Homo sapiens: one gene and its partners. The protein of the gene in region 1 purifies or fractionates together with the protein of each later gene. This does not show direct contact. Each region holds a gene or a part of one and is shown in the gene's direction. Other genes may lie near its edges. The genes, in order: SCAF11, RPRD1B, TUBGCP4, MRPL3, NEDD1, TUBGCP3 and TUBGCP2.

Region 1 (3,500 bases):
CCTCTCATCCCAAATCTCTACTAAAATGACAATAAAGGAATGAAAGAAAAGTGTGTTTTTTGTTTGTTTGTTTGTTTGTTTTTTTGAGATGCAGTCTCGCTCTTGTCACCCAGGCTGGAGTACAGTGACACAATCTCAGCTTACTGCAACCTCCGCCTCCCAGGTTCAAGTGATTCTACTGCCTTAGCCTCCTGAGTAGCTGGGATTACAGGTGCCCGCCATCATGCCCGGCTAATTTTGGTATTTTTAGTAGAGCAGGGTTTCACCATGTTGGCCAGGCTGGTCTCGAACTCCTGACCTCAGGTGATCCGCCAACCTCGGCCTCCCAGAGTGCTGGGATTACAGTTGTGAGCCACTGTGCCTGGCCAGAAAGAAGAGTTTTAAGCCACAAAGTTTAAGCCACAAAGACAAGAAAGCTGGAGAGAGGGGGACAGCACATAAGTGTCCACAAAATAGAAAGTAAAACAGTATGAGGGGGATGGTAAATTGTCTTAGCAGAAAGCTGATACATAGACATTTCATGGGAAGAATGGAGTTAAGAATCTCAAGACAGTACACATACCATCAAACCTTAGCAAGTTGAGTTTGGAGGCCTCCATTATCTGTGAAGGCAGAGATATGGGGTGGTTTTGGAAAACAGAATTGGTTAAAAATCTTTAGATCCTGAAGATTCCTGGCTGTGGGTAGAGGAAGGGGAGTACCCAATGAAAGACTGGAGATTTACACTCTAAAATGAGTATTTGAACCAGATTTAAACTTTAGCATAAATGATGGTACAGGAAACAACAGAGAGGGAAATTAAGTCAAATGATGAGGCTTCTAGTCCTCTACCTAAGAGCATTTTTCAAAGCACTGGCAGTCTTGATTATTATAATTTTCCAAAGTAGGAAATAAGGGACATCTTTTGGAAAACTGACTTGCCCAAAAGAAAAGACTTAAAGATAATGTCATTTGAGAGTCTCCCAATGAAGTAACCAGATGTCTGCTTGATCACCCTACAGTGAAACACATTAGCTGAAAGGCTCTGACCACCCATCTACACCATTTTCAATCAATATTTTAGTGTCCAGCAAACAATCAAGGATCTCCAGATGTTTGAGGAAAATCAACATAATAGAGATCAAAACAAAGACAAAAGCAACCTGATGGGACAGACCCAATGCTGAAAAATAGGGAATAACTTTAAAAAACTTAATATCCTCAAAGCCTGAAAGAAGGGATATTTTATCAATGATACAAGAAAAATAATATTTAAGAAAAAGCTTTCAGAAGTTAAAAATATTACAGCAAAAATACAAAAATTCAACAGGAGTAGAAGATAAGTTCTTAAGTCTCAAAGTAGGACTAAAAAAGAGATGATAGGATATTCATTTAAGAGATTCAATATCGAATAATAAAATTTCAGGAAGGAAAAATGCAAAAATTTATTTTTAAAAAAGTAATACAAAGGAAATTTTTTCCGTAATAGTAGAGCACAGGTGTCCAGATATGAAGAAATAATATAATACTTAGTAAATGAAAAAAAAATCATACCAAATACTTCATAAAGTTCTAGAAGTCTGAGGATGACAAGAGAGAGAGTAAAAACAGACCACATAGAGGATTGGGGTTACAGAGTGTCATCAACAATAGTTGGAGTAGTGAAGCAATGCCTTGAAAACTCTAGGGAAAATAATTACTAACCTAGACAATTCTATAACCTATCAAACTATCCATCGTGCACTAACTCAGAATTCCCACCCTTTTCCACTTCTGCTGGAGGATGTATGTATATACTTCACTAAATGAGATAGTAAATGGAAGAACAATGTGAGATTCAGAAAATGAGTTCCAACTCAGGAAAAGATTAAACAGGACAAAGAGGATTATTGGGATAATGACAAAGGACAATCCCAAAATGACTATTGAACAGCAGCTTTGAGAGTTACCAGTTCATATTGGACCAGGACAAAGAAAGAGTTTTGCCAGGAGAGTGGGGAACAAACCTTATGGATGAGTTGTTGTGTTTGAGTGTATTAAACTCAGATTTATACTTTTGTTGTAGTTAGCTAAATTAATGATGGATAATAAGGAAGAAAAGGAAAAGAGAAAACAAAGACATTATTAACCCTAGGAAAATACCTGAATGAAGCTGGCTGGGCGTGGTGGCTCATGCCTGTGATCCCAGCACTTTGGGAGGCCGAAGTGGGTGGATCACCTGAGGTCAGGAGTTCAAGACCAGCCTCACCAATATGGTGAAACCCCATCTCTACTAAAAATACCAAAATTAGCCGGGCGTGGTGGTGTGCGCCTGTAGTCCCAGCTGCTCAGGAGGCCGAGACAGGAGAATTGCTTGAACCTGGGAGGCAGAGGTTGCAGTCAGCCGAGATTGTGGCACTGCACTCCAGCCTGGCCAACAAAGCGAGATTCTGTTTCAAAAAAAAAAAACAAAAAAAACCACACATAGAGTAGTATAAGGGTGTTATTTAGTAATAAGTAAATGTTAGAAGAAACAGCCAAAGGATTTGATGAGTGCTTTGGGGAAGCAGAAATCAAGAGTGGGTATTTCCATAATTTTTCTTTATAAGTTTGGAAGTACTGTTTGACATCTTAAAGTATGTACATGCATTACTTTGATAAAAATTAAATGAAAAGGCGTATCACTGCCCACCAAAAACAGACAAGTAGGGTGGATTTGTGAAACGATCTTCAGGAAACCACAATTTAGACAAATTCACCAGTATCGAATACTTTAGAGATTGCCATTGAAGCTGTTGAGTAATTACCTGAGAATTACCCAGAAATATGTGAAACAGCTTTTGAACTGGATTTTCACATGTAGCATTGCTCAGAGAAAACTAACAGTTCTTTCAGTAGAGAGCATTTTATCTAATGATGGCTTTCTGAGATAGGTTTCCAAATGAAAGAATGCTATGTAAACACTACATACTCGTTAAGTGTTGAGTGAATGCAACCTGAAACAAAACAACTCAGCATCCTTAGGGCATAAAAGACACTATGTAGGTATAGCACAGCAATTCTATGTCTAGCTGAAGGAACATGGTTATTTCTAAGAGTGTTATCTGTGTACCTACCACACATTTTTACTTCTTGCCTCTTAAGCCATTTTAAAAAATCAGCGTATCATCTTTTAGATACAGATTTTCAAAGGGGTAAGGCAGTAAGTTCCGGAACTCAGCCTGTTCGTCTTCCACTAACATTGAAATTACATTTGTTACAGTAGTTCTGAGAGGGACTTGTGCAAAACCAAACAGCTGTTGTATAATAACTAAAAAGGAAATTAGTATGCTATTAAGTAGAAAGTAGGCTATTACCAACTGAACTAACAGAAGTAAACCAAAATACATATGATCTTGCAGTGCAGGAAACAAGCCTCCTAGTTAGTGTGATTTATTTTGAACAATGTCAATAGGCCCTTTGTGAGGCAAGCAAGGGGGAAAATTAAAAGGCAGTTGTCATATGCACTGTGGACAAGTCATAAGCAATGCAGCCACCAACGT
Region 2 (3,500 bases), on another chromosome or scaffold:
TGCAAGACCCAACTGAGAGAGCTTAAGAACCAGAGAATTTGGAGGCAGGTGAAGGCTGGAGTTGTATTTGGGGGAGTTTTGTTTGGAGTCAGTCTTTTTTTTTTTTTTTTTTTTGAGACAGGGTCTCACTCTCACCCAGGCTGGAGTGCAGTGGTGTGATCTTGGCTCACTGCAGTCTCCACCTCCTGGGCTCAAGCAATCTTCCCACCTCAGCCTCCTGAGTAGCTGGAACTATAGGCATGTGCCACCACGCTTGGCTAATTTTGCATTTTTTGTAGATGGGGTTTTGCCATGTTCGGGCACAAGTGATCCACCTGCCTCAGCCTCCCAAAGTGTTGGGATTACAGGCGTGAACCACCTTGTCTAGCCTGGAGTCACTGTTAATTTCTTCTGTTGGTCCATGGCAAGGTTTACAGATGACTTTGTTTGGAAAGCCTGAATCTGTTTTTAAAAGCAGGGATGGGGAGTGGGAAATCACAGTAGTTACTACTTGAGTCTATTTAGTGGACTATAAAAATTACTATAGCTTCAGTTTAACCTAATCAGAGCTTGCCATGAATTCGAGCCTGCTTGCCTCTCTTCAGGAAATTAATCTGGGTCATTTGACTGTCCCAGTTAAGCAGGTACATGTTTTAACAGTTTTAAAGGCAATTGCTGCCTGTATTTGGTTTTTCAGAGTATATACCCGGTTATCCTTGCCAATACATTTAAACCTCTTAGCCTACAGATCTTTTCTTTTTACCAGCCTCAGTGTTTTGTGTTTTTCATTTTTTTGTGGAGACAGGGTCTCTATTTCCCAGGCTGGTCTCGAACTCCTGGCCTCAAGCAGTCTGTCTGCCTCAGCCTCTGAAAGCATTGGGATTAAAGGCGTGAGCCACCATGCCCAGGCCAGCCTTGATGTTTATTAATCCTTTTCAGTGACAGTCTCACTCTCCCTCTTTCTTTCTCTAGTGATTCCTTCCTCTGACGCCTGCTCTTACAATAGGCGTCCCTGCGAGAAGAGTCACCCAGTGGCATCAAGAGCTCTGGGCAGGATCCGTCCACTTCCAGAGTGGCCTGAAGAGTGGAACACATTTCTTTTTAGTTAAATGAGTTTCTTCGGTAATGTCCAGAATATAATAGCCTAAGCATGATGGAATCCCCCGTACCCCACCCTATACCCCCTTCCAAACAGAAACAACTGTTGTTTGGTTTTTTGGGGTTTTTTTTGTTTTTTTGTTTATTTTTTTGACACGGAATTTCACTCTGTTGCCCAGGCTGGAGTGCAGTGACACAATCTCAGCTCACCACAACCTCTGCCCCGCCGGGTTCAAGCAATTCTCCTGCCTCAGCCCCCTGAGTAGCTGCGATTAACAGGCACCCACCACCCTGCCCAGCTAACTTTTGTATTTCTTAGTAGAGATGGAGTTGCACCATGTTGCCCAGGCTGGTCTTGAACTCCTGACCTCAGGTGATCTGCCTGCCTCGGCCTCCCAAAGTGCTGGGATTATAGGCATGAGCCACTGCGCCTGGCCACAACTGGGATTTTTAAGAAATTGCCTAGGAGAGAGTTAGTTGAACTTAAGGTGGTGTCTAATTAGAGCAAAGTGCCTTCCATTTTAACTTCAATGAACTTGCCACGTTGGTCTGATGATAACCCAAGAGTAAGGAGTCTTGGATTCTGATCCCAGCTCAGCTTCTAGAGACTTGGTGGTTTTCAAATTGTTCTTGAGGGACTCCTTCAACTGAAGGGCTCCCTAGTTGCCAAGAGTGGTTGGTTCTGAGTCGAGGTGGCTTTGATTTGTCAGCTTTGGTCAGAGAATTCAGGCAGGGGGCAGGAAGTCCGTGTTCTGTAGTTGTTTTGTTATTTTACCCTTTTTATACCTTCCATTCAGGAGAAGTTTATTAGATGAATCCGTGTCCAGAAATAGAGAATTAGTTGCCTTCATCCTTTATATTAATTTCCCTTGAAGTATAAACAGCCAAAGAAGAAAAGTACTTGTGGGAGAAAGGGGGTTCAGATCCTCAAATTTGAAAATAGTTTTCAACTTCAGGAACGTGAAAGGTGACTGTTAACCAAAGTCTGAGTCTCAGGAGCTACTTCATGTGGTATGCTTTTACCTGATGTTATGTTTTAGATATGGCTCATTCATTCGGCACATGTGCTGGGTGCCTACTGTTTGCTGGACACTGCGGAGCCTGGTGGATGCTGGGGGAAGCAGATGGGTCTGGTCCTGGCCTCCAGGAGCTTACTAGTTAAATGTGGGAGTCATTGCTAATCATTTACGTAAGTCATTGTTTAATTTTAGTTGTGGTAAGTTTACAAAGAAAAGAAATGGGCTGCTAGGAGAGCTCACTCTCTACCCTTTTCTCTTCCTTTGTAGACTGTGTGAGGAGCTCTCATTGCGGGTGGGAGACTGATTGCCTGCAGTAATGGGGAGAGGATATGCCTGGTTCCCTCCTCTCACTCCTTGCTTGGACTTTTGTCTTTACAACTTGAACTAAGTATTCTCCATTTGACCTTTTTCCTGCCTCATTATTCTTCCCAGACATTCTCTAGCTTCTACTTTCTGCCTCTTCAGGTGTGCATCAGGGATCTGGTATCAAGGAATTTAGAACTTGAAAAGAAGTGTTATGGTCCAGTTCCCTCACTTTCAGATATGGAAGAAGGGAACACATCCACGGTCACACAGCAGGTTAGAGGCAGAACCAGGACCAAGCCTAGGTCTCTGCATCTCAGCCCAGGGCTTCTTGTTACATTCCTGCAGGAAGGGCTTTCTAAGTCAGCAGGGGCCCAGCGTCAGGGACCTACTTACCCTTGCAGAGACACTGAGAGGACAAAAACTAAGCCCCAAGGGGGCCAACAGCCCCAGACTTCACATGGCCTAGGGTTGTTTTCTATATATCTTGGCAGATTTATCAAGAGTACCTTTTTCCGGGAGCTGAGGAAAGAAAAAAAATATGCCCCATTCCTATCATTAGGGGATTCATATTCTAGAGGAACATAGAAGTCTCACATGTATGGAGAGAGCATAGAGCAGCTTGCTAGGGGCTCAGGTACACACCCTGTGTGAGGGAGAGCTCTGGAGCAGGAGGAGATGCGGAGTCGTCTCCTGGATGCAGAGCAAGGATTTTCCTAGAGAGGTGGAGTCCAGATAGTCCAAGGAGCAGAGGAGTGGAGGCCAGGCTTTGCTAGGGCTAGGAGAAGAGAGAGACCCCCTCCAGGCTTGCGGGGAATCCTGAAAAAATGGTCCACACAGACAAAGAGGGTTAGGAGGTTGTGAGGCAGGGGCTGATTTTGTAAGACCTTGAACTCTGCTCTGAAGGACCAGATCATGGAGCTAGTGGGGTGCCGTGCCTCACTTTCTCAAGGGAGTGGTTTCATGAAAGCTGGGCTTTTGGGAGAGAAGTCTGGTGGCATTTTAGGAGCCCTAGGGGTCAGGAGGCCTAACCAGGGACTTACTGCAGTGACTCAGTTATGGAATGAGGAGGCCCTGGTCACAGGGAGTAGCAGTGGGGTA
Region 3 (3,500 bases), on another chromosome or scaffold:
GACCCTGTCTCAAAAAAAAAAAAAAAAAGAAAAAAGAAAAAAAAGAAACTGCCTCTCTCTGCCATCCTCTTCCTATCTGCAGCGAACCTCCACATCAAATTGCCTTAGGATGCTGGATCTTGACTGTTCTGTGGTATTGCCATTTTATCTTAAGTTGAACTATTTAGAAACAAAAGCATTTCCCAAGTTGATTTTTTTTCCCTTACATTTGATTACATACCCTTCTAATTATTCTCTACTTTGCAGTTCCAGCTTCTTTTTCCCTCTGTGATGGTTGTAGTAGAACAAATTAAAAGTCAAAAGGTGAGAACTTTCCTTATTCCTTTTGCTTTGCTAAGCACTGAGGGAATATTACTAATTAATTTTGCTTTACATTATTTTTCGAAGACCCTAGTTTTTAGTAGTTTTTATTTATTCATTCATTTAACAATATCTGCTTGGTTATCATGTTAAGTGTCAGGAATGCAAAAGTATGACTCTGCCTTTAAACACCTCCTGGTCCAGAAGGTAGAGGAAATGTTCATAGATGTTCCCAAGAATGTTGTTGGGGTAAGAAAAAAAGTGCTGTGGATGTTTGCAGGTGAGAGGAACCTGCAGTAAGGTTTTAGAACTGTTGGGTGTGAAGCAGAAAGTTAATTCTTAGGAAGAAGGTAATAGGTTTATGGTTAGTGTGCTGGCAGTTTTCTGAGAATTTTGAGATCAGTGAGTGAAAGCCAGATGTTTAATAAATATGCCTATTCTTATCACAAGTTTTTATCAGGTGTATTGAGAAGTTAGGAGAATGTCTTTCTGGGCAGAGTTAATAAGTCTGAGGAATAAATGCTTTGAGATTTCATATTAGAAGAATCTGCTGTCCTATTGAATTGGTCCACAATTGGACCAAGTGGACAAATGGATTAAACATCTTTAGCTCAAGTCGTCATTTTTTTTAAGCTCTTTATTTGTGCCTTAGCTTATTAGGGGTGTTCATTTTCATTAATGTAACTAGTAAACCAGTTAATCTGCCACATTGCTGCATCATTTTTAACTGTGTAAGTGTAGAAACAGTGCTCTGCTATGTTCATGCTGTGCCAGCAAAGCCAGTGGTGGGTGCTCATTGGCCCTTCAAAGCTGATTGTCCTCATCAAATAACAACATCCAGCTTTTACTGTCACTGGCTGTGTACTAGGCACTGTGCTAAGTGCTTTAAATACATTATCACACACAATCCACTAAAGGGCTAAGTTGGTTAAGGGGTGTGCCCAGTGTCACACAGATAGTAGTAAATGGGTTTATATCCCAGCTCTATCTGGCTCCAAAGAGTGTGCTCTTAACCACTAGATTAAACTATCTCCCAAAATAAAAGGAGACATTCTAGGCAAATAGAGTTAATGAGGACAGCATAAGGGAGCCAGGCCTAGCTGCACGTCTCAGTTGGCCTTCAACTTCCGCTGGCTATAGGAAGGAGAGTGGAAAATAGGGGGATTGCAGATGGCTGAATCTTCCTCCCTGCCAGAATAGTGGTAGAGAAACTAGTGTACCAAGGCTCTTCAGAGTTTTTAAAATCAGGTGGTCAAAATTCTAGGTTTGGGTTGAGAATGGAGATTGATTGCAGACAGGCACAAAGGCGCTTTTTGGAGTAGTGGAAATGTTATAAAACTGGATTGTGGTAATGGTTGCCCAGTGTTTGAAATTTACTAAAAATTGTTTATTAGTATGCTTAAAATGGGTGAATTTCATTGTAAATTATACCTCAAAGTGGTAAAAATAAAAGTCTGGGGACCGGGCATGGTGGCTCACGCCTGTAATCCCAGCACTTCGGGAGGCCGAGGCGGGCGGACCACGAGGTCAGGAGATTGAGTCCATCCTGGCTAACACAGTGAAACCCTGTCTCTACTAAAAATACAAAAAAAATTAGCCAGGCGTGGTGGCGGGTGCCTGTGTCGCACTACTCGGGAGGCTGAGGCAGGAGAATGGTGTGAACCCAGGAGGCAGAGCTTGTAGTGAGCCAAGATTGCACCACTGCACTCCAGCGTGGGCGACAGAGCAAGACTCCGTCTCAAAAAAAAAAAAAAAAAAAAAAGTCTGAAGAACATAGAGGCAGAGGATTTTTGAAAAAGTATATACCTTAGAAGTAGACTGAATTGGGCCTTAACTTGAAATAAAAAGCTTTCCTTGGCTTTGGTGTTCCAACTCTAAATGATTCTGGTTGCTTTAAGTGCAGTGGTTCTCACACTTTACTGTGCATTAGAATCACCTGGAGGGCTTGTGGAAACACTGAGTGCTGGGTTCTAACCAAGAGTTTGCATGTCTGATGAGTCTCCAGGTCATGCTGCTGATGGGAGAGAGGTCCCTCTTTGAGAACCACTATGTGTAAATCTTAGGAGAAAGTTTATCCCCAGTCTCTCCTAGATTGTGCCCTCTTGGTTGAATATGGAATAAGAATGTGTCTTGCATGGACTCTTAGAATGGAATCCAGTTTGACAAGGCCGTATTTTCCACAGATTCATGGTTGTCAAATCCTGGAAACAGTCTACAAACACAGCTGTGGGGGGTTGCCTCCTGTTCGAAGTGCACTGGAAAAGTAAGTCATGGCTTAACTGGGAATTGGTGGTGGAGGTGGGTGGTCAAATTATTTGACTTCTCACATGTTTTATTTTCAGGTCATTTCAGGTTTCCCTCTTGGGAAGGTTATAACCAGGATAGAAAAAGCTCCATGAGCAGAGGAGCCCATGTAACCTTTATTATGGCTCAGGCCTTGCAAAAAGGGCTATAGAGTGTTGAGTGACAAAGCCAGGATTTAGGTGCCTGGATGACCTTGAGGCAATCTTTTTAAATGTTTAGATCCTGTTATCCTTGCAGGAATTCCATTACATGTGCCAGATGTTGCTTGCTGTGTCTAAACATGTGTATTTGAGTAGCTGGTATTTTCAAATTGAAGGTCCTTAAAAATGTTTATGCTTTATAATCCCATAATGCCACTCTTGGGAATTTTATCCTAACAAAACTATTTAATAGAAGAAAATAACTATATGCACAAACGTGTTCATTGCAATGTTGTCTACTATATCAGGAAATTAGAAAATTACCAACAGTAGAAAAAAATTTAAATGATGATATATTCACTTGATAGACTATAAAGCCACTAAAAGTGTAGGTACTATAACATGTAAACTATTTTATATAAATATGTACTGACAAATGATACAAAATTGTATTTATCTTGTGATTACAACAATATGAAAACATGTAGAGTATAATCAAAGACTGCCTGTTTGAGCTTTCCATTTATCCATTTTCCTTATTTTAAAAAAACTGTGACATTCATTGAAAAATTATAATAGATGATCCCTGAGGCCACTCACAACTCTGTTTTGTTCTTTTTTTCTTATTTTATTTTAATTTTTTGTAGAGAGAAGGCTTTGCTATGTTGCCCAGGCTGGTCTCGAACTCCTAGGCTCAACCGATATTCACATCTTGGCCTCCCAAAGTGTTGAGATTACAGGTGTGAGCCACCGCAC
Region 4 (3,500 bases), on another chromosome or scaffold:
AGTCCTATAGCAATCTATATCGAGTCTTAAGAATTAAGGTGGGGGGAAGACCCAGGAATTATAAGAAAATAAGATGTCCATAGGTTTTGTTTTTAGTGACACTGGTTGTAGTGATATTTACAATAGCAGGACAGAAGGCAGGAGTGGAGAGCAGACAGCAGGTTCTACCAGGAGCTGGGGATATAGCAGCAACTAAAGCAAGTCTCTGCTTTCAGGAAGCTTAGATTTGGGTAGGTTTGGGGGTGAAATGGGGAGGCTGTTACATAGAACAGGGGTCCCCATCCCCTGGGCTGTAGACTGCTCTGTGGCCTGTTAGGAATGGGAACTGCACAGCAGGAGGTGAATGGCAGGTGAGTGAGCATTAGTTACCACCCGAGCTCTACCTCCTGTCAGTCAGATCAGTGGCAGCGTTAGATTCTTATAGGAGCGCAAACCCTATAGGAGCTGTGTGTGCGAGGGATCTAGGTTGCATGCTCCTTATGAGACTCTAATGCCTGATAATCTGAGGTGGAACAGTTTCATTCTGAAACCATCCCTCTTGCTGCCTCCACTGGTCTGTGGAAAAATGGTCTTCCATGAAACCAGTCGCTGGTACCGAAAAGGTTGGGTACTGCTGACATAGAAACAGTAAAAAATGTGTATCATGACACATGGAGATAAATGCTTTGAAGGGTAATACTAAAAATATAAAGGATTTTTCTCGGAAGCTTCCTGGTATGCCTAAAAAACTGGTATTAATAAAATAATATGCTTTAATAAAATAAAAGTAGGCTGAGGGGATAAGTGACAAAAAATGATGCTATTTCAGATTGAGTAATTAGACAAGGTAAGTTGATATTTTGATTGATACCTGAATAAGTAAGGGAGCCAGTCATGCAAAAATATGGCAGAAAAGCATTCTAGACAGAGGCAATAGGATGCGCAAAGGTCTTGAGGCTAGTGTTTGATGTGTTCTTGGGCCAATAAGGGAGTGCATTTTTTCTGAAGCAGGGTGAGTCAGGAGGAGAGTAAAAGATGAGGTCAGATTGTGTAGAACATTTTAAACCATGGTAAGGACTTAGGACTTGATTCTGTAAGAAGTAGAAGCCACTGTAGATACATGATATGGCTTGAGTTTTAAAATGATAATGCCAGCCTGTGAATTGAGAACAGACTAGAGAGTCGGAAGGGTGGAAGCTTGGAGACCAGTTTGGAGGCTATTGAAATAATCCAGGCAGAAGATAGTGGATGAGGTTGACATTGGGATGGGGTGGTAAGTGGTTGGCGTGGGCTATATTTTTAAATAGTCTGGAGGAATTGCTGATGAATGGGACATGGAATGTGAAGAAGAAAAGAATCAAGGGTGACCATAAGATTTTTGACCTATACGGCAGCATTATGGAGTTGCCTTTTTTATTGAGATTTGGAAGAAGGCCTGGGAAGGGCAGGCTTGGTGAAGGGAGTTGAGTTCAGTTTTAGACACGTTAAGCTTAAGTTTCTATATGACATTGAAGTGGAGATAATGACTTGGCAGTTGGACATGTGAATGTATAGTTCAAAGTAGAATTTGGAATTGAAGTTAGAAATGTGCAGACATTCACATATATGAGAACCGAGAGAGTAGTAACTGGAAGCCAAGAGAAAGTCTTCCATGGAGAGAGTGGTCACCTGTGTTAAGCATTGCTGGTAGATTCAGTAAAATGAGTATCAACCAGTGTGGTTGACCGTATGGAGATCCTTGGTGAATGACAAGCACTTTGCATTGAGTGCTAGGAGCTGAAAGTGCTGATTAAACTGGGTTCACAGAATGGGAGGAGAGAAAGTAGACTTGGCAAGTCTTTCCAGGAGCTTTGCTGTAAGGGGGAACAGAAAAATTAGCTAAAGAATATGTGGTCAAGAAAAAGTTTGTTTTAATATGTGAATTATTGTGACATGTTATATATAGTGATAGGAAGTTCCAGTAGAAAGGGGAAAAAAATGAAGATTTCTTAGAAGAGAGTGGGGACAATTTCAGGAGGAAACCATTGAATAGGTGAGAAGGGGTGGGAATTAGTGCTTTTAATAAAAGTATGGAGAGCTCATCTGTCAGCATGATTTCCAGCCCCAGTTTGACATAGAAATCATGTGAGGTGCTTGAAAATTAGCAATGCCTAGACCCCACACTAGACAGTGAAATTACAATCTCTAAGCAGAGGGCCCTTGCCGTTGGCATTTTCCAGAAGCTCTCCATGTGCATCTCATGTGTAACCTAGAGTGGGGTGGGAGGATAGTACTGTTAATATATTAGTGCTGGTATAGACAATTTGGTAAAAGCATGGAGAAGTTCTCTTAATTCTTTTATTTGATCAACTCAAAGGGAGGAAGAGGAAACAGTGCTGAAGATTTTAGAAAAGGATGTGACTTAGTTTTCTTATAGAGTGTGAAAATGATTTAACCAGAGATATGTAGGTATCTCTAGATATAAGCAGGCCACATTTGAGATTCTGAAGTTTGTGGTCATAACATTTAAATGTAACATACCGTGTTTTCTTCCAGTTTAGAATAAGTGCAGAATAGGCAGAGTTGATTTTTCGGGGTTTGGGTTCTTAATTCAGACAGTCTCCAGTCAGAATTTAAATATGAGCACAACTCTCTATTTTCCTGCAGAACAGAGGTCTTTCCCAGTGTGCTATATTTGAACACTATGTACATGATTGGAATCTAAATAGTAAGATTATTCAGAGATGTAATAAAATATAGCTATAAATCTCACCTCCCTTAAATAAGGGGAATTGGGTGCCCTTTGTTCATTAAGGAATAAGGTATGCTTTGATTTATTTTCTGGGGTGTTAATAACTTGGTTTAGATCTCCATGCATTTAATTCCACTTTTAATATTCAATGTATTACTTATATGTGCTGCTTTTCCTCTAGAAAGCTACATCCATATTGGAATTTTACCGGGAACTTGGATTGCCGCCGAAACAGACAGTTAAAATCTTTAATATAACAGATAATGCTGCAATTAAACCAGGTAATTTGAGGTTGGGGAGAGGAGGGAGGTAAAAATACCCAAATATGCAATTTGTTTAATGTCAGCCCTTTCAATAAAGCTACATCTAAAATGCAAAGTCTCAAACACTTACTTTTAAATACAAAACTGTATCTCATTTTGTTTTTTTTTTTTTTTAGTGGAAAAACCTGTAGATAACTCTTTGCTTTCTGTGAGAGAGGGAGGAACACTTTTGTTTTTAATGTAGAGAGAGTTTAATATTTGAAAAAGCCACCTCAAAGAAATACACTAACTTTTAAAATTCAAAGATCGTTGTTCACAGGCTGGCATTCATGAAAAATAGCCAGGCTCTTGCTTAGGTAGAAGAACTGGAGAAAATATAATAACAGAAGGGACCGACCATAGCACCTCAATGTAAAGATTCTTACTTAAAATTTCCAAGATATTTTGCCTAATCCGTGGACTGTCAAAGAGTAAAGATTTGGCATATGATTATATTGGCTCATATGGTTAGCAAAATATAACATTTT
Region 5 (3,500 bases), about 51 Mb from region 1:
TATATTTTGCTTGAAGTTTTCTGTGGATATATATTGCATTAGCTTAAACTCTAAGGCTTTTCCTGTAGCAGTACTTTACTCCTATTTTCCTTCGGTTTGTTTTTAATAGTCTTGGTTTATCTAGTTTATGGTGCAGCTTGTCACATTCATCTTTTATAAGAGGAAATGGTTCATAGATTCTTCAAGATTAATCCCTCTGTCATGTGGTATTACATTAGACAGCTGGCAGTTTATATATATAGATAAATGACTATTAGAAATAATGTTATAGAAAGTTTCTAAGATTTGTATTCCAGACAGTGAATTTTTCTAAATGTCACAGGAACACTCTTCTTTGCCAGTTTTTCAAGTTTGCACATGCCAAATCTTATTTAGAAATGTTTGATGTCTCTCAGTCCAAGTTGACTATTAATATTTTCTTCATTCTTTATTTTAGATCCAAAGATAGCATCTTCTGTCACTGCTGGAGTTGCCAGTTCACTCTCAGAAAAAATAGCCGACAGCATTGGAAATAACCGGCAAAATGCACCATTGACTTCCATTCAAATTCGTTTTATTCAGAACATGATACAGGAAACGTTGGATGACTTTAGGTAGTAATTGAGAAACTACTCCTTCTATCTAGACCTTACTTGTTTTTTTTTTAGATGTAAAACCAGAACTATAGATAATGTTGTTGGTTACTATTGTCTAGGTTCTGGTAATCCTAAAGCCATAGAAAACATAATGAGTTTTGTTGATCTTTTCGTACTGCATTTATTGATTATGAGCCAGGAAAAGGCACATTTACCTAGGGCAATTATTAGGTAACTCAGCAGGGCAGTCTAGCAGGTAGACTGCCATTGTGAACTTTTTTTATTATTAAAATGTGGACAAGTTCTGGTAAGCTTAAATTGGGTTCTTAACCTGCAGTATGTTCATAGATCTATTAGGTATGCTGTGTGCAATAATGTAGTAGAAAAAGATACTTTAAAGCACAATTCTGAATGTTTTCCAATAGAATGCATCAGAATGTAATACTTAATCTAAAAAAAATTCTTTCTCAGACTTATCCTTGTCTGTCTCATCCTTCGAATTGTGAACATTCTAAGAATGTGTTCTACAATGCTGCTTTCTTTTATCATCTCAATATTTTTGGAAGCTATCTTCAATTATTAAAATCATTGGTGCCTTTTTTCCTTTCTAACCTATAGTTAATGTTGTAGCTCAGATTTGGATTACCGTAAGCAAGAATGTTGGAGAAAATGTGCAGTTTTTGTTGGTGCATGCTTCCTTTTAATGTTTTAAAATACTTTTAAAATATATTTTTAAATGTCGAAAAATACTTTTTAAAGAAAAATTGTAATTTTGGCATTTACCCTACCTAGTATATGTACCAGATACTAAGGATACATCAAATGATCTGCCACAAAGGCCTTGTGATGTAGTTGGGCTAGGTGCAGTGTGTTCTGCCATGTGTGTTTCTCTTAATGTGAATTAATTCATTTGGGATCAGTAGAATAGAACACTGTTGACAATATGATGAGGAAATTTTGTTTGTTCGTGTAATAGCAGCCAAAATAAAGTACACCTGAACACAGCTGAATGCAGCAAACCCCGTCAGCATCCATCTCTTTTTATTCACTTCCTCTTGGCTTGGCTGTGTGGTCTGTTAGAAGTACTTATTTTGTGATTATTTCCCATCTTTGGGCATTTTGCTCTTGCCTCTGTAACTTGATAGCCGCAATCCTTCTATCCTCTTCCATTAAGTGACCATCACTTCTTCACAGTAAGGGTATTATTCAATAATTATCTATTAGATTTTTACTATGTCTTTTTAACTATGTTAGTATTTTTATTAGGATTTAATTGTTTTTGTTGTGCTCTGGTTACAAAGTTGCATAGGTTTTTGAGTGCTTTGCCCTAATCCTTTTTCCCTAAGTTCTGTTATTTTTAATACACAGTGTTAAAGAATATACGTTTTTTTCAGGAGTGCATAAATATTTATGGCATAATAGTAGAACTGTCTGGATACAGCTGACTATAATACAGTGTGAGCAAAGTGATGTTGAAATCACAGAAAGGGAGCAGTTCTTCTGTGGGGGCAGATTTAGAAAGGTACACTGAAGAGATTTTATTTTATACTGATGTGTGTGGGAACAGCTTGAGCAGAGACATGATCATACATTCTAGGAATGTTTGCAGAGAGAAGGCACCGTGGTAAGAGACCAGGCCTGAGGGACAGTTGTGAAGGTCTTAACACACAGGTAATGGAGAGCCATCAGAGTTTTTAAGCACAGGAGTAATGGGTGCTGTCTATTTATTACCCATTTATTCAACAAGCATTTGGGTGTCAGTTCACCACTGGCTTCAGATGATTTGAGGACAGTGGGCTCAGGGCCTTTCCTTCAGCAGACCCAGGGATCTGAGTGCTGGAGCAACTCTGAAATCGCTGTGCATTTCTGCCCTGCTGCCAGCTTTCGGGGTGGCTGGAGCTTGTTTTTCACTATCTAACCTGTTCCTGGCTTTCTGTGCCTCAGGAGAAGTGTGTCTGTCCCACTTTCAGCCCTGCAGAGCTGCTGCAGCACGTTTGGTGAAGACGTACAGTCAGTGCCTCTTGGTTTTGCTGCCCTGTGCTGCATGTCTGCACCTAGGAGTGGTGGGTAGGGACTTCTCTCAGCTCTTCTGCCCTTTGACCATAGGCAGCCTCTGCCTGGGACGCAGTGAAGACCCAGAGTGGCTCAGAGGATTTCCATAAATTCACTTGTTTTGCCATTTGCCTAGGTGTTCATCAGACTAGGTGTTCATCTACACCTATCATTGGCAGGACAGAGAGGGTATTGAGGACCTCTTTCTCAGCCATCCTCCCGTGGCTGCCATCTTCTCCATGAGAGCCTGGAGTGCCTTAGAGGGGTTACTCTCAGTTCTTCTCTGCTGCCCTAAGGTTTCACCAGGCTCTGTGCATCTGTATCTTAGGGAGTCTCCCTCAGCCCTCCTGTTACACTTGTCCCTACTTTTTTTACATGAGCGCTGAATGAAGGCTTGTGGGAAAAAGTTGGTGAGTAAATTGAGACTCTCCTTGTGGCTGGGACCCCTTGGAATTCTAAACTATCAAGCAGTGTTTACTTGGCTTTTAAAAATCTTATTAAAATTTCAGCTAGTTCTTTTTACTCTGTCAAGGGCATGAAGATGGGTCTCTTTTCTCCTAGTCATGGGTCTCTTTTCTCCTAAGAGGAACTCCTCATTTTCTGGATTTTAGTTCATTTAGATTTCTTTCCATTCTCAGCTCTCGGTTGAATTTAAAATAATATGATTTTATAGGTTATCAGGTTTGTTTTCGTTATTAGAGTTGAGAAATTATACTTTTGCACCAACCTAATACATCCTAAGTGGAAATCTGTGCATCTGTTTCTGTTGTCTATTAAGAAGATTTAAGTTTCTTTTGGCAAGCAGATCCCTTTGATCCTTTGGTTACTAGGTTCAGGTTTTCTTAGCACTAGTTTGTTTCCAGTTTGCCTTTA
Region 6 (3,500 bases), on another chromosome or scaffold:
GGTGAGGCAGGATTTGGGAACACTGCCGAAGCTGGAGATGGGAATCCTGGCTATGGCTGTCTGGACAGCCCTGGGTGGGCACTGCCGATGGCACAGTGCATGGTTGGGAGGGAGCTGCTGCTGCTTCTCCTCCTGTTGGAGCCTGACAGGGGGCAGCTAATAGGAGCCGTGGCATCTCCACTGTCCAGCCCTTCTTTGTGGCTAAGCAGCATGTGGTCTTGTCCATAGGTTGATTATTGGGCAGTAATTACTGCCAATGAAATCTCCAAAAATTATTGAATCACAGAACAACTGTGTACTATAAGCTCAGCGTAGCACAGGACTTATGGCAGCGTAGCTGGTGGGTAGGAGGGTGGCTGGTGAGTAGGAGCGTGACTGATGGAGAAGAGCATGGCTGGTGGGGAGGAGTGTGGTGCTGTAGTGTGGCTGGTGGGCAGGAACGTGGCCGGTGGGTAAGAATGTGGCTGGTGAGTAGGCACTTGGTGTGGCAGTGTGGCTAGTGGGTAAGAACATGGCTGGTGATTAGGCATGTGGTGTGGCAGTGTGGCTGGTGGGGAGGAGCATGGCTGGTGGGTAAGAACGTGGCTGGGAGTAGGAGCATGGCCGGTGGTTGGGAATGTGGCTAGTGAGGAGGAGTGTGGGTGGTGGGTAAGAATGTGTGGCTGGTGAGTAGGCGAGTAGTGTGGCAGTGTGGCTGGTGAGTAGGAGCATGGCTGGTGGGGAGGAGTGTGCTGTGGCAGCGTGGCTGCTGAGTAGGAGCATGGCTGATGGGGAAGAGCGTGGCTGGTGGGGAGGAGCGTGGCTGGTGGGGAGGAGTGTGCTGTGGCAGTGTGGCTGCTGAGTAGGAGCATGGCTGATGGGGAAGAGCGTGGCTGGTGGGGAGGAGCGTGGCTGGTGGGGAGGAGTGTGCTGTGGCAGCGTGGCTGCTGAGTAGGCATCACACTTTGAGCTTTGAAGCGAGGCAGCCCAGGGTTCTGGTTTGGGCTTCTCCTGTAATGGTCACGTCATCTTGCCCAGGTTATCTTCTGTTGGCCACAAGTTTCTTCCTGCATAGAGTGGGGTAGTGATTACCTCTAGGATTGTGAAGGTGGGGAGAGAATGCGTATAAAGATGCTGCTTCCCAGTCTAGTACTGTTTTCTGTTCTGTTTGCCAGTCTAGTGAATTGCTCGATGACCAGCCACCACTCTCCCTCATTGCAAGGGCAGATAGGAGTGAGCTGGCTCTTTCTCGAGGCAGGTAGGACTGGTGGGCCGTCCCCTCAGGAGCCAGCTGTAATTTTAGAGTCCCTGTCCCTTTTCCCGAAGGGAGTGTTTTATCATGTCTGGGTTTATATCATCATCTTATGCAAGTGTCACTGATAGGTCCCAGTCAACTTGATAGACATGAAGCAAAACACACACACAAAATCAATACAGGATAACTAAACCATTATGTAGATATTTTATTCCAGGAGATGGATTGATCATCACTATAGTAGTATCATATTATGTTTTATAGCAGGGGTCCCCAGTTCCTGGACTGTGGACCGGTACTGGTTCATGGCCTGTTAGGAACTGGGCCGCACGGCAGGAGGTGAGTGGAGGGCGAGCAGGCATGACCGCCTGAGCTCTGCCTCCTGTCAGATCAGTGATGGCATTAGTTTCATAGGAGTGTGATCCCTGTTGTGAACCGTGCATTCAAGGGATCTAGGTTGCATGCTTCGTATGAGAATCTAATGTCTGATTATCTGAGGTGGGAACAGTTTTATCCCAAAACCACTCTGCCCCCCCATCCCACCCTGGTCCGTGGAAAAAATGTCTTCCACAAAACCAGTCCCTGGTGCCAAAAAGGTCGGGGACTGCTGTTTATAGTACTGGACTTTAGAGGCTCTTCTTTTATCTTCTTTCTCCTTATCGATTATCATAGCAGCCTTCTAAAATGATCAGGGCAAGCATTAATTGTCCCCATTTTGCAGATGTGAGAATTGAACCTCAGCAAGTTTGATTGATTTGACCAAGTTGCCCTGACTAGTAGATGGCAGGTATGGACTAGGGTGTGACGTGTCACTCTGTTCCAAAGCTGTCTCTGTTCTTCCATTTCCTGCTGTTTGGAGTCATTGCTTGGTGCCATCCAGTTGCTGAAGGAGTGATGGTTTATTTATCTTATTTGAAGAGCCAGCGTGTGCTCTCAGTGGGGTGACCGTGTGCCCTAATTTATGCCTTGCATAATTTATGTCCTGTGTCAGTATTACCAGTGCCCACAATTAGCCTTGGAGGTGTCCTGGCTCTAGACATACCAAATGGAGCAAAATCATATATGAATGAAGATACTGTTTTGTAAGTGTGAAACTTACATGTGCATTTAATGAACCAAGGTGGAAACAGCCTCTGCTAACCACAGGCCTTTTCCCTCTGAGTGTGTGTGGCGCTGCCGCGCTCTGCCTGCACTTCCACTCTTTTGGTTGTAGACTTCTCAGAAGCTGACTCACATACACCTGTATATAAATACTTAGATTCTACACGTTGGATAATGATTTGATTATTTCAGCAGGTTTTGTTTTTGTTTTTTTTTTGAGACGGAGTCGTCTCGCTCTGTCACCCAGGCTGGAGTGCAGTGGCGCGATCTCGGCTCACTGCAAGCTCCGCCTCCCATGTTCACGCCATTCTCCTTCCTCAGCCTCCCGAGTAGCCGGAACCACAGGCACCCACCACCACGCCCGGCTAATTTTTTTGTATTTTTAATAGAGACGGGGTTTCACTGTGTTAGCCAGGATGGTCTTAATCTCCTGACCTCATGATCTGCCCGCCTTGGCCTCCCAAAGTGATGAGATTACAGGCGTGAGCCACCGCACCTGGCCGCATATTTCAGCAGGTTTTTCAAAGCTTTGATGTGTTTATGTGTCTGCTCTCCTGCCCTGGGGCTGGGATGGAGTTTTGGTAAAGAGTGATGCTGTGCCTGAGCAGATTCCATGTCGTTTTCTCTGTAAATATTACCTAAGAAAACTGACCTATGGTTTAGTAAGCACCTTTGTGCCCACACTGTGCCAGGCGCTTGCCCTACGTTACCGCATTTATTCTTCCTCCCTTTGTAGATGAGCCTAGAGGTTCATACCGTCAGGGGCTGACACGTGGCGGTACCTCCAGCGGGAGCCCTGGATTTTTACCCCCTGGTCTGTCTCATTCCAGACTCTAGGACGTTTCTTCTTGCACACCTCACTTTTGACGTGTCCTTTTGTGTCTACAAAATTAGTATGTTTTATGTTCATTTTCATACTTGAAAATGTTCACATTTGTCTTAGTCCACAAACCATAAATGCAGTAAAATACACCTATAGGTGACTGCTGATATATTTTAAAAATATACAGAAAGGTATGCAACCTACATATTTACTTAAAGAAAACAAGTTTAAAAAACAATTAAAAAAAATTTTTTGATGGAGTTTTGCTGGATAAAACTGAATGAGAAAGAACACAGGTTTATCCCTTGCAGGCTGCTTCTGCTGTGGGCTCCTTGAACAGCA
Region 7 (3,500 bases), on another chromosome or scaffold:
CAAGCTCAGGTGATTCTCCCACCTCAGCCTCCCGAGTAGCTGGGACTGCAGGTGTGCACCATCACACGCAGCTAATTTCTGTATTTTCAGTAGAGACGGGGATTCGCCGTGTTGCCCAGGCTGGTCTTGAACTCCTGGAGTCAAGCGATCTGTCCACCTTGGCCTCCTAAAGTGATGGGATTACAGGTGTGAGCCACCATACCCGGCCTAAAGCAACCCTTGAGGTCCCTCCACAGCCAGGCGGCTGGATCCACACTAACCCCCACCCCACGGCACCTCCACCCCACCGTGAGGCTTCTCCCCACAAGGGCATTGGCCGAGGCTTCGTGGCTGTGGATGAATGAGGCCAACATGGTGGAAAGTAAGTGATGCAGAGTCAGAGGCAGTTCCTGGAAGATGCACTCGCTGTTCCCAAAACGCCAAGCCACACCCACTCCTTTAGGGATGGTAGACATTGGGGTCTCGGTTTTATTGGTCATCCTGAGAAGGCCACTGGAGTAATAGAAAGAAATGGAATTTGAAGTTGAAAAGTGTAGATCTGCCAGCCTGGGCAACACGGCAAGACCCCACCTTTACAAAAAATTTAAAAATTAGCCAGGAATGGTGGCACGTGCCAGTGGTCCCAGCTCCGAGGGAGACTAAGGATACAGGATCGCTTGAGCCTGGGTGCTCAAGGCTGCAGTGAGCTGAGATTGCACCACTGCCCTCCAGACTGGGTGACAGAGTGAGATTTGTCTCAAAAATAAAAAAAGGAAAAAAAAAAAACAAGGACAGTGTGGATCTGCATCAGGATTGAGGCTTTCGCTGAAGGGCTTGCGTTGGTGACGGATTGTAGTCTTGAGGCCTGCAGTCACAGGACACTTCCCAGCAGATGTGTGAGGCTGACAGAGTGATTTTGTAAACCGAAAGCCTGTTGTACGGAGCCTTCCTGAGCTGCCAGGGCCTGGTTTGGGTATGGTCTGGCTGGCACGGGGCCCTGTCAGGCCCTCGTGGGGACAGTTTCAACATCCTGCTTTCGTCTGGTGCTCCTCCCGGCCCCCCAGGCATGGCCCGCCTGAGGCTGTGGACTGAGAACTTGGTCCTGGGACCTGAGGGGTTTGGTGGGTGGCGGCCCGTGGCCGTCCTCGTGAGGAAGCTTAGCTGTGTGTCCTGCAGCCGTCTCATCCTCTCTGGATAGAAATTATCAAGAGTTTCTTAACGTTTAAGTGATAGCTTTTTAAAGACAAGGTTTTTTGTCCCAGAGTAACTCAGACTTACCAAGTTGTACTTACCAATGTTGAAAGTGCAGCTTCTGCTGGAGTCGCCTTTTCAACTCCTAACTTCACCTTTTCAAATGTCAGCCATGTATCTGAGCATTGCGGAGCCGAGTGTGGTGAGATCTTGACACCAGCCACCACGCCTCCCAGGCCGGCCCCGTCCTGCGGCGGTTGGAACTCAGCCTGTGGCTCCCCAGTGGGGTCAGTCAAAGCCAAGTGCAGTGGCTGACCTTTTATACCCATAAACAAAGATGAGCAAGAGTGAGACTGACCCGCAGATGAGGGCACGTGGCTGTGGGGGCATGGGAGTGGGGGCTGCAGAGCCACAGCGCTGTCTGTGCCCGCAGGCACGTTGCCCCTGGCCTCGCAGGAGTCGGCCGTGGTGGAGGACCTGCTGTACGTGCTGGTGGGCGTGGACGGGAGGTACGTCAGTGCTCAGCCCCTGGCTGGGAGGCAGAGCCGGACCTTCCTCGTGGACCCCAACCTGGACCTGTCCATCAGGGAGCTGGTGCACAGGATCCTCCCAGTGGCCGCCAGCTACTCCGCTGTGACCAGGTGGGCACCGGGCGCGGTCCCTGGGAGCCTGCGCTGTTGTGGGGGAGGGGTTAGGTCCCATCCTGATGACCATGGGGACGTCTGCATCGCTTCTAAAGAGAGCGCCCGCCTTGGTGACAACTCCGTGCCCAACTCAGTTTTGGAGGGTCTGTGAGTCACCATCCAGGGTCCTGACTCATCTCCTCCTGGGGCAAAAGTTCCCCTCTGGGATGTGGGGTTCAAGTGAGTCATTTGCTTCCTGTTTGGGATGAGACTCAGAATATCGGACATTGTATGTGCCTGCAGCTTGCCTTTTTGAGGAAGTCTGACAGCTTTTCTTCCAGGTTCATTGAAGAGAAGTCTTCCTTCGAGTACGGGCAGGTGAACCACGCCCTGGCGGCCGCCATGCGCACCCTGGTGAAGGAGCACCTGATTCTGGTGTCACAGCTGGAGCAGCTGCACAGGCAGGGCCTCCTTTCGCTGCAGAAGCTCTGGTTCTACATCCAGCCAGCCATGCGCACCATGGACATCCTGGCCTCCCTCGGTGCGTGCCCGCCCGGGGGGCATGGGGCAGTGGTGGGTGGCAGGTGTTGAACATGGCACCCAGTGTGAGGAGAGACTCTGCAGGGGCCGTGGAGCAGCTGCCCAGGGCAGGGGCGTGTGGCCAAAGCTCATGTTGCTCCATGTGCTATTAACTTGCAAGAGGAAAGCCCTGGAAGCTCTTACTGGTCAGCTGAAATCAGCAACTACAACCTTACAGTTAATACGTATCCCAAAGAAGCAGCACCGTCCCAGGAAGAAGGTTGGAGAAGCATGAGGGGCCCCAGCAGTGTTGTTGGCAGAGGCTGGGCGTGCGCTTCCTTCTCAGCAGTGAGCCCTCCTTTCTCCCCACAGCCACCTCGGTGGACAAAGGCGAATGTCTTGGGGGGTCCACGCTGAGCCTGCTCCACGACAGGAGCTTCAGCTACACAGGGGACAGCCAGGCGCAGGAGCTATGCCTGTACCTAACCAAGGCGGCCAGTGCTCCCTACTTCGAGGTTCTGGAGAAGTGGATCTACAGGGGCATCATCCACGACCCATACAGGTAGGGCTCCCCGGGACACGGGGACACGGAGGGACACGGGGACACGGAGGGACATGGGGGACACGGAGTGTGCATGCTGCCCTCTCCCGTACAGGTAGGGCTCCCCGGGACACGGGGACACGGGGGACACGGAGGGACACGGGGGACACGGAGTGTGCATGCTGCCCTCTCCCGTACAGGTAGGGCTCCCCGGGACACGGGGACATGGGGGACACGGAGGGACACGGGGGACACGGAGTGTGCATGCTGCCCTCTCCCGTACAGGTAGGGCTCCCCGGGACACGGGGACATGGGGGACACGGAGGGACACGGGGGACACGGAGTGTGCATGCTGCCCTCTCCCGTACAGGTAGGGCTCCCCGGGACACGGGGACATGGGGGACATGGGGGACACGGAGGGACACGGAGGGACACGGAGGGACACGGGGGACACGGAGGGACATGGGGGACACGGAGGGACACGGAGGGACACAGAGGGACATGGGGGACACGGAGGGTGCGTGCTGCCCTCTCCCGTACAGGTAGGGCTCCCCGGGACACGGGGACACGGAGGGACACGGAGGGACATGGGGGACACGGAGGGACATGGGGGACACGGACGGTGCATGCTGCCCTCTCCCGTACAG

Evidence for each region.
Region 2: the proteins of SCAF11 (region 1) and RPRD1B purify together in Homo sapiens (co-immunoprecipitation; one large-scale study listed by IntAct). This does not show direct contact.
Region 3: the proteins of SCAF11 (region 1) and TUBGCP4 purify together in Homo sapiens (affinity purification with mass spectrometry; one large-scale study listed by BioGRID and IntAct). This does not show direct contact.
Region 4: the proteins of SCAF11 (region 1) and MRPL3 purify together in Homo sapiens (affinity purification with mass spectrometry; one large-scale study listed by BioGRID and IntAct). This does not show direct contact.
Region 5: the proteins of SCAF11 (region 1) and NEDD1 purify together in Homo sapiens (affinity purification with mass spectrometry; one large-scale study listed by BioGRID and IntAct). This does not show direct contact.
Region 6: the proteins of SCAF11 (region 1) and TUBGCP3 purify together in Homo sapiens (affinity purification with mass spectrometry; one large-scale study listed by BioGRID and IntAct). This does not show direct contact.
Region 7: the proteins of SCAF11 (region 1) and TUBGCP2 purify together in Homo sapiens (affinity purification with mass spectrometry; one large-scale study listed by BioGRID and IntAct). This does not show direct contact.

What each region holds. Positions count from the first base shown.
Region 1 is NC_000012.12:45,935,075-45,938,574, reverse strand, and holds part of SCAF11 (protein SCAF11), read left to right. Parts: intron 1-3,500. UniProt on the Homo sapiens protein: Plays a role in pre-mRNA alternative splicing by regulating spliceosome assembly.
Region 2 is NC_000020.11:38,085,746-38,089,245, forward strand, and holds part of RPRD1B (regulation of nuclear pre-mRNA domain-containing protein 1B), read left to right. Parts: intron 1-951; exon of another isoform or gene 952-1,101; intron 1,102-2,117; exon of another isoform or gene 2,118-2,266; intron 2,267-2,363; exon of another isoform or gene 2,364-2,675; intron 2,676-3,500. UniProt on the Homo sapiens protein: Interacts with phosphorylated C-terminal heptapeptide repeat domain (CTD) of the largest RNA polymerase II subunit POLR2A, and participates in dephosphorylation of the CTD by RPAP2. Transcriptional regulator which enhances expression of CCND1.
Region 3 is NC_000015.10:43,377,601-43,381,100, forward strand, and holds part of TUBGCP4 (gamma-tubulin complex component 4), read left to right. Parts: intron 1-246; coding exon 247-303; intron 304-2,483; coding exon 2,484-2,563; intron 2,564-3,500. UniProt on the Homo sapiens protein: Component of the gamma-tubulin ring complex (gTuRC) which mediates microtubule nucleation.
Region 4 is NC_000003.12:131,489,472-131,492,971, reverse strand, and holds part of MRPL3 (large ribosomal subunit protein uL3m), read left to right. Parts: intron 1-2,891; coding exon 2,892-2,991; intron 2,992-3,500.
Region 5 is NC_000012.12:96,945,257-96,948,756, forward strand, and holds part of NEDD1 (protein NEDD1), read left to right. Parts: intron 1-436; coding exon 437-593; intron 594-3,500. UniProt on the Homo sapiens protein: Required for mitosis progression. Promotes the nucleation of microtubules from the spindle.
Region 6 is NC_000013.11:112,550,154-112,553,653, reverse strand, and holds part of TUBGCP3 (gamma-tubulin complex component 3), read left to right. Parts: intron 1-3,500. UniProt on the Homo sapiens protein: Component of the gamma-tubulin ring complex (gTuRC) which mediates microtubule nucleation.
Region 7 is NC_000010.11:133,291,873-133,295,372, reverse strand, and holds part of TUBGCP2 (gamma-tubulin complex component 2), read left to right. Parts: intron 1-1,603; coding exon 1,604-1,811; intron 1,812-2,134; coding exon 2,135-2,334; intron 2,335-2,684; coding exon 2,685-2,874; intron 2,875-3,325; exon of another isoform or gene 3,326-3,500. UniProt on the Homo sapiens protein: Component of the gamma-tubulin ring complex (gTuRC) which mediates microtubule nucleation.